Homo sapiens: one gene and its partners. The protein of the gene in region 2 purifies or fractionates together with the protein of the main gene of each other region. This does not show direct contact. Each region holds a gene or a part of one and is shown on either strand. Other genes may lie near its edges.

Region 1 (3,652 bases), on a different chromosome or scaffold from region 2:
TAGTCATTAAAAGTGAATTTTTTTTTTTTTTGAGACGGAGTCTTGCTCTGTCGCCCAGGCTGGAGTGCAGTGGTGCAATCTCAGCTCACTGCAAGGTCCACTTCCTGGGTTCAACCAATTCTCCTGCCTCGGCCTCCTGAGTAGCCAGGATTACAGGCGCGTGCCACCATACCTGGCTGGTTTTTTGTATTTTTAGTGGAGATGGGGTTTCACCATGTTGGTCAGGCTAGTCTCAAACTCCTGACCTCAGGTGATCTGCCGACCTCCGCCTCCCAAAGTGCTGGGATTACAGGCATGAGCCACCGTGCCCAGCCTAAAAGTGAATTTTTTTTTTTTTTTTTTTTTTTGAGACAGAGTCTTGCTCTGTCACTCAGGCTGGAGTGCAGTGGCGTGATCTTGGCTCACTGCCACCTCTGCCTCCCGGGTTCAAGTGATTCTTCTGCATCAGCCTCCCGAGTAGCTGGGACTACAGGCGTGTGCCATCACACACCTGGCTAATTTTTGTGTTTTTAGTAGAGACAAAGTTTCACGATATTGGCCAGGATGGTCTTGAACTCCTGACCTCGTGATCCCCCCACCTCGGCCTCCCAAAGTGCAGGGATGGGCGTGAGCCACTGCGCCCGGCCTAAAAGTGAAATTTTTAAGAAATAATTTTACTTAATGTGGGAACTTTTTCATAATACAATAATTTTTACCCCAAAAAAAGCTGCAAAAGTGTTTTTACTTGGAATTTTCAGCAATTGGGGCATTTTATTTGTTTTTTTAGAGTCAGGGTCTTGCTATGTTGCCTAGGCTGGTCTCGAACTCCTGGGCTTACGAGCTCTTCCTGCCTCAGCCTCCTGAGTAGCTGGGACTACAGGCGAGCAATTTTTCTTTTGAAATCTTAGCAAAAAAAAAAAAAACTGGAAGGAAATATGCCAAAATATTGTCATGTATCCCTTAGAATGATGTAGCTATTTTTCTTTATAATTTTTTTCATAATTTTTTACATATATCAGTTACCTTACAATGAGAATAACAAGTCATAAAGTGAAAAAAGAATTAATTAATTAAAGGAGGCACCAATGGCTCATTTCAGCTTAAGCCCAAAAGACAAATACCTACAGTCTCATAAAGTTTCTCTAAAGGAGATATGTAGGGCCGGGCGCGGTGGGTCACATCTGTAATCCCAGCACTTTGGGAGGCCGAGCCAGGTGGATCACAAGGTCAGGAGTTTGAGACCAGCCTGGCCAACATGGCCCTGTCTCTACTAAAAATACAAAAATTAACCAGGCATGGTGGCAGGCGCCTGTAATCCCAGCTACTCGGGAGGCTGAGGCAGGAGAATCACTTGAACCCAGGAGGCAGAGGTTGCAGTGAGCCAAGATTGTGCTGTTGCACTCCAGCCTGGGCAACAAGAGCAAGACTCCGTCTCAAAATAAAAAAAAGAGATATGTAAATGTCAAGTTTTTGGCATGTTTTTTAAAAAAGCAATTAAATGTGATTGTGAGGAGAGAAAGGCAGTTATATAATTATGAGTAATAAGCTCTTGTGCTACAGACATTGATTGAGTTCAGCCCTAGCCATGTGCCAGGACTGAGCCAAGTTATGACTTAACATATTTACTTCATTTAATCCTCACAACAACCCCTTGAGTTTGGACTTTTTTTTTTTTTTTTTTTTTTTTTTTTTGAGATAGTCTCACTCTATCGCCCAGGCTGGAGTGCAGTGGTGCAATCTCAGTTTACTGCAACCTCCACCTCCTGAGTTCAAGTGATTCTTGTGCCTCAGCCACCTGAGTAGCTGGAATTACAGATACGCACCACCACACCCAGCTAATTTTTCTATTTTTAGTAGAAATGGGGGTTTGCTACATTGGCCGGGCTGTCTCGAACTCCTGGCTTCAAGTGATCTGCTTGCGTTGGCCTCCCAGAGTGCTGGGATTATAGGCATGAGTCACTGCACCTGGCCAGGCAATTTTTTATCTCCATTTTATAGCTGAAGAAACTAAGGCTCAGTGATTTGCCCAAGATAGCACAGCCAGAGTGGGTGCTCAATAGTTATTGCAGTGGCTGGGCTCAGAGGCTCAGGCTCACATCTATAATCCCAGCACTTTGGGAAGCCAAGGCAGACAGATTGCTGAGCCCAGGAGTTCAAGACCAGCCTGGGCAACGTGGTGAAACCCCATCTCTACTAAAAATCAAAAAAATTAGCCAGGCATGGTGGCGCAAGCATGTAGTGTTAGCTGCTTCAGAGGCAGAGGTGGGAGGATCAGCTTGAGCCCGAGGAGGTCAAGGCTACAGTGAACCTTGATCACACCACTGCACTCCAGCCTGGGCCGCAGAGCAAGACCCTGTCTCAAAAAAAAAAAAGTAATTAAAAAAAACATGTTAAAATAATTTTAAAAATAGCACAAGAATGAATAGTTCTCCCCTGAATGTGAGATGTTAATCAATTGTTTGATATGCCTCCCCCTCTCTAATTCTTCTAGTGTTTGCAGTGAAGCTCTTGCCTATTTCATCACTGTGAATTCTGAGAGCCATCGGGAGGCCTGGACAAGTCTCTTGTTGTTACTTCTAACTAAAACCCTCAAAATAAATGATGAAAAGGTATGAACAAGTAAACTCTGACCAATTTTCACTAGGACATAAAGTTTGGGTTGGCTTTTTACTCAAGAGTTTGCAGTAACTATTTTCTCAGTTCTCCCAAGGATGGTTACGTGACTAGCACCATTCTAGATGCATTGGAGAGAAGTTAATCCGTTATGGACAATGGGTGCCACAGGATATTAGGGCTTTTTGCCTGGAAGAACAGTAGTTGAGAACGGCTGAAGTGTAGACCTCATGTGTTGCTGTTAGGAATGGTATGGTGAGTTTCAGTGCAGGAAGAGAGGGTTAAGATTGTGAAGCACCAGTTTTGACCTAGGAACCTGCTTTACAAAATAAAAGAGCTGTTGACTTTTGGCAGCAAGACTATCCAAATTTAATTAAAGTTAAATATAACTGAAAGAAGCTTTAATTTGCAAGGTTTCTTCAACTTCTTTTTTTTTTTTTGAGACAGAGTCTTGGTCTGTCACACAGGCTGGAATGCAGTGACGTAATCTAGCTCACTGCAATTTCTGCCTCCCAGGCTCAAGCGATCCTCCCACCTCAGCCTCCTGAGTAGCTGGGACCACAGACACGCGCCACTATGCCCAGCTAAGTTTTTGTATTTTTGGTAGAGACAGGGTTTCACCGTGTTGCCTAGGCTGGTCTCGATCTCCTGAGCTCAAGCGATCCACCTGCCTCGGCCTCCCCAAGTGCTGGGATTATAGGCGTGAATCACTGCGCTCGGCCCCAACTTTCTAATAGCAAGAAAAGCACCAATATTGTAATAAGTTCCAGGGTGAGATTAACACTTCTGAAAAACTGGTGCCCAAAAAAAAAAAAAATTGTCTAATTTTATCTGTTTCTCTCCCACCTCAAGTTCAAAGCACATGCTTCAATGTACTACCCCTACTTGTGTGAAATTATGCAGTTTGACCTGATCCCTGAGCTCCGAGCAGTTCTGCGGAAGTTCTTCCTACGGATAGGTGTTGTGTATAAGATATGGATACCAGAAGAGCCATCACAGGTACCAGCAGCACTGTCACCAGTGTGGTAGCCCTGGCTGCCCAGGCCAGTGCTGCAGCTCT
Region 2 (3,652 bases):
ATCTGCCCGCCTCAGCCTCCCAAAGTGCTGGGATTACAGGTATGAGCCACCGCACCCAGCCAAGAGCTGATTCCCATCTACCTACCGGGCAGCCTCTCTCTGGACCTCCCCCAGGCACTATACCCTCCTCTTGGTCTGACCCGGGACTCTCACCTTCATCCCAAAGCCCATCTTCCCCCTGTTATGCCTCCATCCCCACCCTTGGCCTAAGCCAGAAAACTGGGAGTCACTCTGAGCTCCTCTCTTGCAACCAGCAGGAGATTACCACGTCCCACAGATCCCATCCTCAGAGATACCTCACCAACCCATTCCCTCCAAGATCCCCACACCACTCCCCAGTCTAAACATTAAGCAGGATAAAATCTAAATTCTAGGCCATCCCTGAGCTGGGCCTGCTGCCTCCCAGCCCATGTCGTGCCTTCCTGCCCTGCCTTCTCCCTCCGCAGCACTCACATGCCCATTCCTGCGGGCTTATTGAGCCGCTTTCAGTTCCCTAAAGCGCTCACTCTGCTCTTTTGTGCCATCACTTCTGGCCTGTGTCCCTAAGGCCATTTCTACCTGGCATTGCCACCTTCCTTGACTCCTCCCCACCCAGGCACAATGAGGACCTGAAGGCACCGACATCCCTCCTTTACAGCCCCATTCAGCGCGGCACTCTCTGTTCATCTTTCTGCCTCCCTCAATACTCTGGGTCTCCCTGAGGGCCAGGGCTAAGTGTCATCATCTCTAAGCTCTCTGTGCCCAGCACCAAGGCTGGCCCAAAGCAGGCACTCAGGAAATGTTGGCAGAAGGGAGAGTCGCATCAGCTGGGCCCTGAGCTCTTTCATTCCCTTATTCAAGTGCAAAGAAACAAGAATTTGGCCGGCTGTGGTGGTGCACGCCTGTAATCCCAGCAAATTGGGAGGCTGAAGCAGGTGTATTACGATGTCAAGAGTTCGAGACAAGCCTGACCAACATGGTGAAACCCCGTCTCTACTAAGAATACAAAAATCAGCCGAGCATGGTGGCAGGTGCCTGTGATCCCAGATACTCAGGAAGCTGAGGCAGAAGAATTCCTTGAACCTGGGAGGCAGAGGTTGCAGTGAGCTGAGAGCACACCACTGCACTCCAGCGTGGGCGACAGAGCAAGACTCCTTCTTGAAAAAAGAAAAAAAGAAAAGAAGCAAGAATTTGTATTTTGGGCAAATGTGTGCCCTTGTGAACAATACCTCACCCCCCGGGCCCTGTTTGCCTCCCTTTTATTTTATTTATTTATTTTTTTATTTTTATTTTTATTTTTATTTTTGAGACAGAGTCTCGCTCTGCCGCCCAGGCTGGAGTGCAGTGGCACAATTTCGGCTCACTGCAAGCTCCGCCTCCCGGGTTCATGCCATTCTCCTGCATCAGCCTCCTGAGTAGCTGGGACTATAGGTGCACGCTGCCATGCCCGGCTAATTTTTTGTATTTTTAGTAGAGATGGGGTTTCACCGTGTTAGCCAGGATGGTCTCGATCTCCTGACCTTGTGATCCGCCCACCTCGGCCTCCCAAAGTGCTGGGATTACAGGTGTGAGCCACTGCGCTCAGCGCCTCCATTTTATTTATTTATTTTTTTTGAGACAGAGTCTAGCTCTGTCACCCAGGCTGGAGTGCAGTGGCATGATCTTGGCTCACTGCAGCCTCTGCCTCCCTGGTTCAAGTGATTCTCGTGCCTCAGTCTCCCTAGTAGCTGGGATTACAGGCGTGCACCACCACAGCTGGCTAATTTTCATATTTTTAGCAGAGACAGGGTTTCACCATGTCGCCCAGGCTGGTCTTCAACTCCTGACCTCAAGTGACCTGCCCGCCTCAGCCTCCCAAAGTGCTGGGATTACAGGTGTGAGCAGCCGAGTTCGGCCTGCCTCCATTTTAAGCTACAGGGGCAGCGACTCCTTCCCCACCCCACTGCAGGGCCACGCGGAGGGCAAGGGCAAGATTGGAGACCCTGCAGGCTACCTCGTTGGCGTCGATGCCGCTGTTGACGGCCCACGTGGTCTGGAAGTATTCGAGCATGCGCTGCTTGAGCGGCCGCGGCAGGCGGTGCACACGGATGAAGTCCTTGAGGTCCTTCATGCGGCTGTGGTAGAGCGAGCGGCGCGAGTACATGCGCTGGATGATGGCTGTCACGTTCCCGAACACCACAGCGTGCATCAGGGCTGCAGCAGCAGCAGCGGGCCTGTCAGGGGCGGCCACCCCTCTGGCCACCTCCCCAGCTCCCAAACCCACCCTGTCCTGGACCAAGAGCCAGCGGGCTCCTGTGTGCCTACCAGGTGCCAGGCACTAGACTAAGGGTGGGGAATAGGGAGTGGTCCAGAGATGGGTAACACCCCATGCTCCTCTCAGGCCTCCCCACCATTAGGTCATGAACCTGGGTTTCCCATCCCCTTTGCAAAAGTCCACGCCTGTTTGTGGCATCCCCAGGGCCAGCACATAGTGGGCACTCAGGAAACGTCCGTGAATGAATGCGTGACTGTCTGGACTTGGGTAGACACCTCGGGCAGATGTCTTGCCCTCTCTGGGCCTCAGTTTCCCCGTGCATGCTGGGCTTCGCAGGGCCCCACTGAGGCGTGGCAGGTCTGGCCTCACCGCCTATGAGCATCGTGCAGATGGAGAAGATCTTCTCCGCGTCGGTGTTGGCACACACGTTGCCAAAGCCCACACTGGTGAGGCTGCTTAGAGTGAAGTACAGTGCCGCGATGTAGGCGCTGCGCCGTGATGGGCCGCCCACCGAGCCATTGACATAGGGCACCTCCAGACGCTTGCCCAACTCATGCAACCAGCCTGCAGGGTGGACGGATGCAGGGAGCCCTGGCTGTGCCAGCGGTGGAGAACCAGGGTTCCCTGAGCCACCTACGCTTGACCTTCGGCAAGTATTTATACACAGGTTGGCACAGGAAATGTGGGGAGTGGCCTGGGCCTGTGTCTCCCCATGGTGCATTGGTTACAGTTGCATTCCAAGGCCGCCAACTAACTACATTGCTGAGTGTTCAAAGGCTCCTGAAACTTTCTAATAGTTTATTGTGCACCTGCTGTATACAAAGTGTTGGGGAATTGACCCAGCCAAACACTCTCCCTGCCCTGGTGGAACCTATAGCCTGGAGGGGAAAGAGACATGACATAAATCATTACAGGTGGGAGGTGAGCTCCTGGAAGGAAAGTATTGTATAGGGTGTGTTAGGAATCCTAACAGGTTAGGGAAAGCCAACCCATTGGCAGTTGGGGGTTCTGGACATGGTGCCTGGAAGGCATGCTCCTTAGGACAGGACATTTTGGTTGAGACACATGGAACCGAAGGAACATTGTTCCAAGTGAGGCAGGGAACGGAAAATCCATCTAGGTGGAGAGGGAAGACAAAAGAGGAGGATTCCAGAGAGGAAAAGAACATGTTCCAGGCCCAGCATGAGAAAGCAGTATGTCCTGGGTCCAGGGGAGAGGCTGGTGTGGCTGCAGCGCAGGGAGCACGGGAGAACGGGAAGGCAGGTGGGGAGAGAAGGGGCACAGGGCCGCCCAGGGTGTGCAGTGAGTGTGGACTTCATTTGGAGGGCAGTGGGAAGCCACTGAAGGAATCCCAGAAGGAGTGTAGTGGGTCAACGTTGAATCCTGGAACACCCATTTGGCTGTGGTGAGGATGGTGGT
Region 3 (3,652 bases), on a different chromosome or scaffold from region 2:
ATTTGGCCTTTTAAATATCTAATAATAAGAAAGAGATAATAAAAAGGATAATTTAAAATACCTGCACAAATCCTCGTCAGTGTCTGAATAACCATCCATTTGTGATCAAATGAGCTGGTAGAAGTTTCCAAAATGTATAAGAAAATTTCTTTAAAGAACACCTGTGATTAGGAGAAAACTTCTGTTTAAAATATTGTTTAGAATTCATATGTGTGATCACTTTTTAAACATCCCAGAGCTATAGAGCAGGTATTAGGACCCAGGCTCTTATGGAGTTCAACTCCTTTTGAGTTCCATCTCTGAATCCTCAGGACTAAAATATCTTGGGTAAGTGACTTAAACTTGCCCTTCTAGTTATCAGTACTGCAATTCACATTGATGTGTTTTGTTCTCAACACAGCTGCTACAAAAGAAATATGCAAAGATTTAGAGTTCCTCTAGGTGATAATTTCTTTAACATTTTTACAGAATATAACTTACGCTTTTTTAATCCCCCTCCAAAAGCGTAATTTATACTTCTGTTCATCAGTTATATTTTTCAGAGACGTTCTAGTACTGAGAGGCCTAACTGTTCGTAGATTTAAATGTAACTGATACTCTAATCAACACAATAAAAACAATCTAAGTCTCATACGGTTTTATTTTTCTAATTACTCACAAAAGTGAAAATCTCTACTGTTTGAAAACTACATATGAACTATTTCTCACTACTCTTTACACCAAATAATCAAGCAGTGAGTTAATCAACCTAATGAGATAAATTTCAATTTAACAGATAAGAATTTTCAGATTTAAATGTATTCTATAAAAGTGACTTTAAGAAGGAATGACTGAAACAACCAACATATTAACATTTATGAAACATATGCATTATGAACCCAGAAAATCACATTTATAGTATCTCCCCCTAACTGGATTAGGTACCCCTGTAATGTGATTTTCTTTCACAAAACTCAGCATATTTCTATTTACTTGTTTAATATCAGTATCTCCTATAGACTGTAAGCTTGAAGACAGTAATGACCAGGTCTTTCTTGATAAAGATCACGTCCATATTGCAGGGCACATAGTAGGTGTTCAATAAATACTTATGGCAACATGGCCACAATTCCCAAAAACTGCATCAAAGTACCCCAGAATGCTGTAGCAAACTCATGAGGGTGCCCTGAAAAAATTCTGAGGCAAAATTCAGAGGGAGATACATCTGTTGGATACCTCAAAAGATTGCTCATGGTTTCAAATAAATCACACTACATTCCCTTCAATGACATAATTATCTCCGCAAAGCTGGGTTTTGGTAGTTGCTATGATAAAAAACCAAGTACTGAATGAAAATCAATGAAGTACAGGAATGAGGGGGACAGTATTCAATTCCAAGATCTAAGAAGCTGTGTGCAGTTTCTAATAGGCACACGCATCCCAGTGGTAAGTAATTGCGGTAAAGAATAAAATAAAAACATTATTTTTCTTTTACTTTATGCATACTATTGTCTTTGAAATACATAGTAGGCTGTGAAGACAAATATCCATTAAGTTGTTTGGCCCTGCCTGCTTAATAAATAGAACATAGAACTGGAGGTATTCCTCTGGCCAAAGTGCAACTTTCATGAAAAGTCAGACTTGTGAATCAAAAACTTTTGGGATCCTCTGATTGACAAAATAAATAATATAGACTGGAAGAGAGAGGGAAGAAAAAATTTTAGCTACTATCAATGGTTTATCAAATTGCACTAATAAGCAAAAGTCTATTGCTGTAATATAAGATATTATGCCTATCATAATAGGGGCTCTAAAAAAATCAACCTTTTAATAATTTATCGAGGACCTATAATGTATGTATGTGGAACAACAGCTATATCTTAAGTATGCTGTCTTCACATATGTTCTCCTGAAAAGTTGTACATAAACTGTATCTTCTGGAATAGATATATAATTTAAGACCCATGAAAAAATCACATCACAGAAACTCTGAAGTGAATATTCTCATAAAATGAATCTTCATGTAAAAACAATCTTAATTTTGTTTTGCAAATTTAGGTTTTCATAGCTGGGCTTTCTCCACGTTCAGCTTTTTTTTTTTTTTTTTTTGAGATGGAGTTTCGCTCTTGTTGACCAGGCTGGAGTGCAATGGCGCGATCTTAGCTCACTGCAACCTCGGCCTCCCAGGTTCAAGCGATTGTCCTGCCTCTGCTCCCAAGTAGCTGGGATTACAGGCATGCACCACCACACCCGGCTAATTTTGTATTTTTAGTAGAGATGGGGTTTCTCCATGTTGGTCAGGCTAGTCTCGAACTCCTGACCTCAGGTGATCCACCCGCCTCGGCCTCCCAAAGTGCTGGGATTACAGGTGTGAGCCACTGTGCCCGGTGCTCAACTCATTTATAATTTGAGTGTGTATAACATTTTTGAAAGTATATCTATATTTATCTCATTTTACCCTCATTATCGCCCCCTGAGGGACAATAAGGAGTGAAATAAACCTAATTTTTAAAAATTAGAATATTATAATAATTTTGTAATGAGAATCTGACATCTACAAATTGACAAGAAATTTCTTAAAGTTTTTCCTTTCAAATTCATTTTTGCAAAGTTGAATTTGCTGTGCAAAAATAGTAATCTCAACTTAAATAATTTTTGATATCTAGATCTAAGAATTTATATTTTACTGTCGGTAAACAGTACCTACAGAAGCAGAATCTCAGTGTCCAAAAAAATCTGTAATTGGTTACATAAAGTATTACAAAATTTTCTAATGCCAACTTAAATGTCTCATCATCAGATGAAAGACTTCTGGTTTTTTACAAAAGCAAAAGTTCTAAAAGTTTTTTTAACTGTCTTTTATTTATAGTTCCTACAGATAATGGGGAAAAACTATCTAAAAACGGCAACTCTTCCTAGTTAAACGCCTTGTATTATCTTAACAGACATATGGCAAACTCTTAAAACTTGACATCATACATCATATAGGCACCAAAAATGGTTTCCTGTCCAAAAATATGGCCCAAATTAAAAAGCTTTTCACTTAAAATACCAAGGCCTAATTCTGTTTCATTCTCATAACAATGCTCTAAATCAATCTTGATAGCTATTACAGAACATTAACATTAAAGGATAATATGACTATTTTAGCCATTTCGAAATTCTGGAAAAATAATTTATCCTTTCTAACAAGCTAGTGAATTATGAGTCTTGAGTTAGGATTAAATATAAAATTAACAAAAATTAAAATATAACCTGTATATCAAACATAATATGAAGGTAAAAACTGACAACATAAAAATGAGTATTTCAAAACCATACAACATCACAACCAAAACAACATTTCAACAAATAACAAATTGAAAAAAGCATTCATTAAATTGGTAAAACATAAAGTACTATTTTTAAGTTTTATTTGAAGATGAAAACAAAAAATCAGAAACTGGTACACCTTAAAAAAAAAAAAAAAAAAAACCACATAAAGCTGGGCGCAGTGGCTCACACCTATGCTCCCAGCACTTTGGGAGGCGGACGCGGACAGATCACCTGAGGTCGGGAGTTTGAGACCAACCTGACCAACATGGAGAAACCCTGTCTCTACTAAAAATACAAAATTAGCCAGGCGTGGTGGCACATGCCTATAATCCCAGCTACTCGGGAAGCTAAGGCAGGA

What was found.
Region 1: the proteins of KCNH4 (region 2) and ARFGEF2 purify together in Homo sapiens (affinity purification with mass spectrometry; one large-scale study listed by BioGRID and IntAct). This does not show direct contact.
Region 3: the proteins of KCNH4 (region 2) and ARFGEF1 purify together in Homo sapiens (affinity purification with mass spectrometry; one large-scale study listed by BioGRID and IntAct). This does not show direct contact.

The regions. Positions count from the first base shown.
Region 1 is NC_000020.11:49,029,579-49,033,230, forward strand, and holds part of ARFGEF2 (brefeldin A-inhibited guanine nucleotide-exchange protein 2), read left to right. Parts: intron 1-2,470; coding exon 2,471-2,588; intron 2,589-3,444; coding exon 3,445-3,621; 3' UTR 3,622-3,652. UniProt on the Homo sapiens protein: Promotes guanine-nucleotide exchange on ARF1 and ARF3 and to a lower extent on ARF5 and ARF6. Promotes the activation of ARF1/ARF5/ARF6 through replacement of GDP with GTP. Involved in the regulation of Golgi vesicular transport.
Region 2 is NC_000017.11:42,167,505-42,171,156, forward strand, and holds part of KCNH4 (voltage-gated delayed rectifier potassium channel KCNH4), read right to left. Parts: intron 2,798-3,652; coding exon 2,603-2,797; intron 2,173-2,602; coding exon 1,973-2,172; intron 1-1,972. UniProt on the Homo sapiens protein: Pore-forming (alpha) subunit of a voltage-gated delayed rectifier. Activates at more negative voltages, exhibits fast prepulse-independent activation kinetics and deactivates much more slowly, but shows no inactivation.
Region 3 is NC_000008.11:67,267,282-67,270,933, forward strand, and holds part of ARFGEF1 (brefeldin A-inhibited guanine nucleotide-exchange protein 1), read right to left. Parts: intron 162-3,652; coding exon 62-161; intron 1-61. UniProt on the Homo sapiens protein: Promotes guanine-nucleotide exchange on ARF1 and ARF3. Promotes the activation of ARF1/ARF3 through replacement of GDP with GTP. Involved in vesicular trafficking.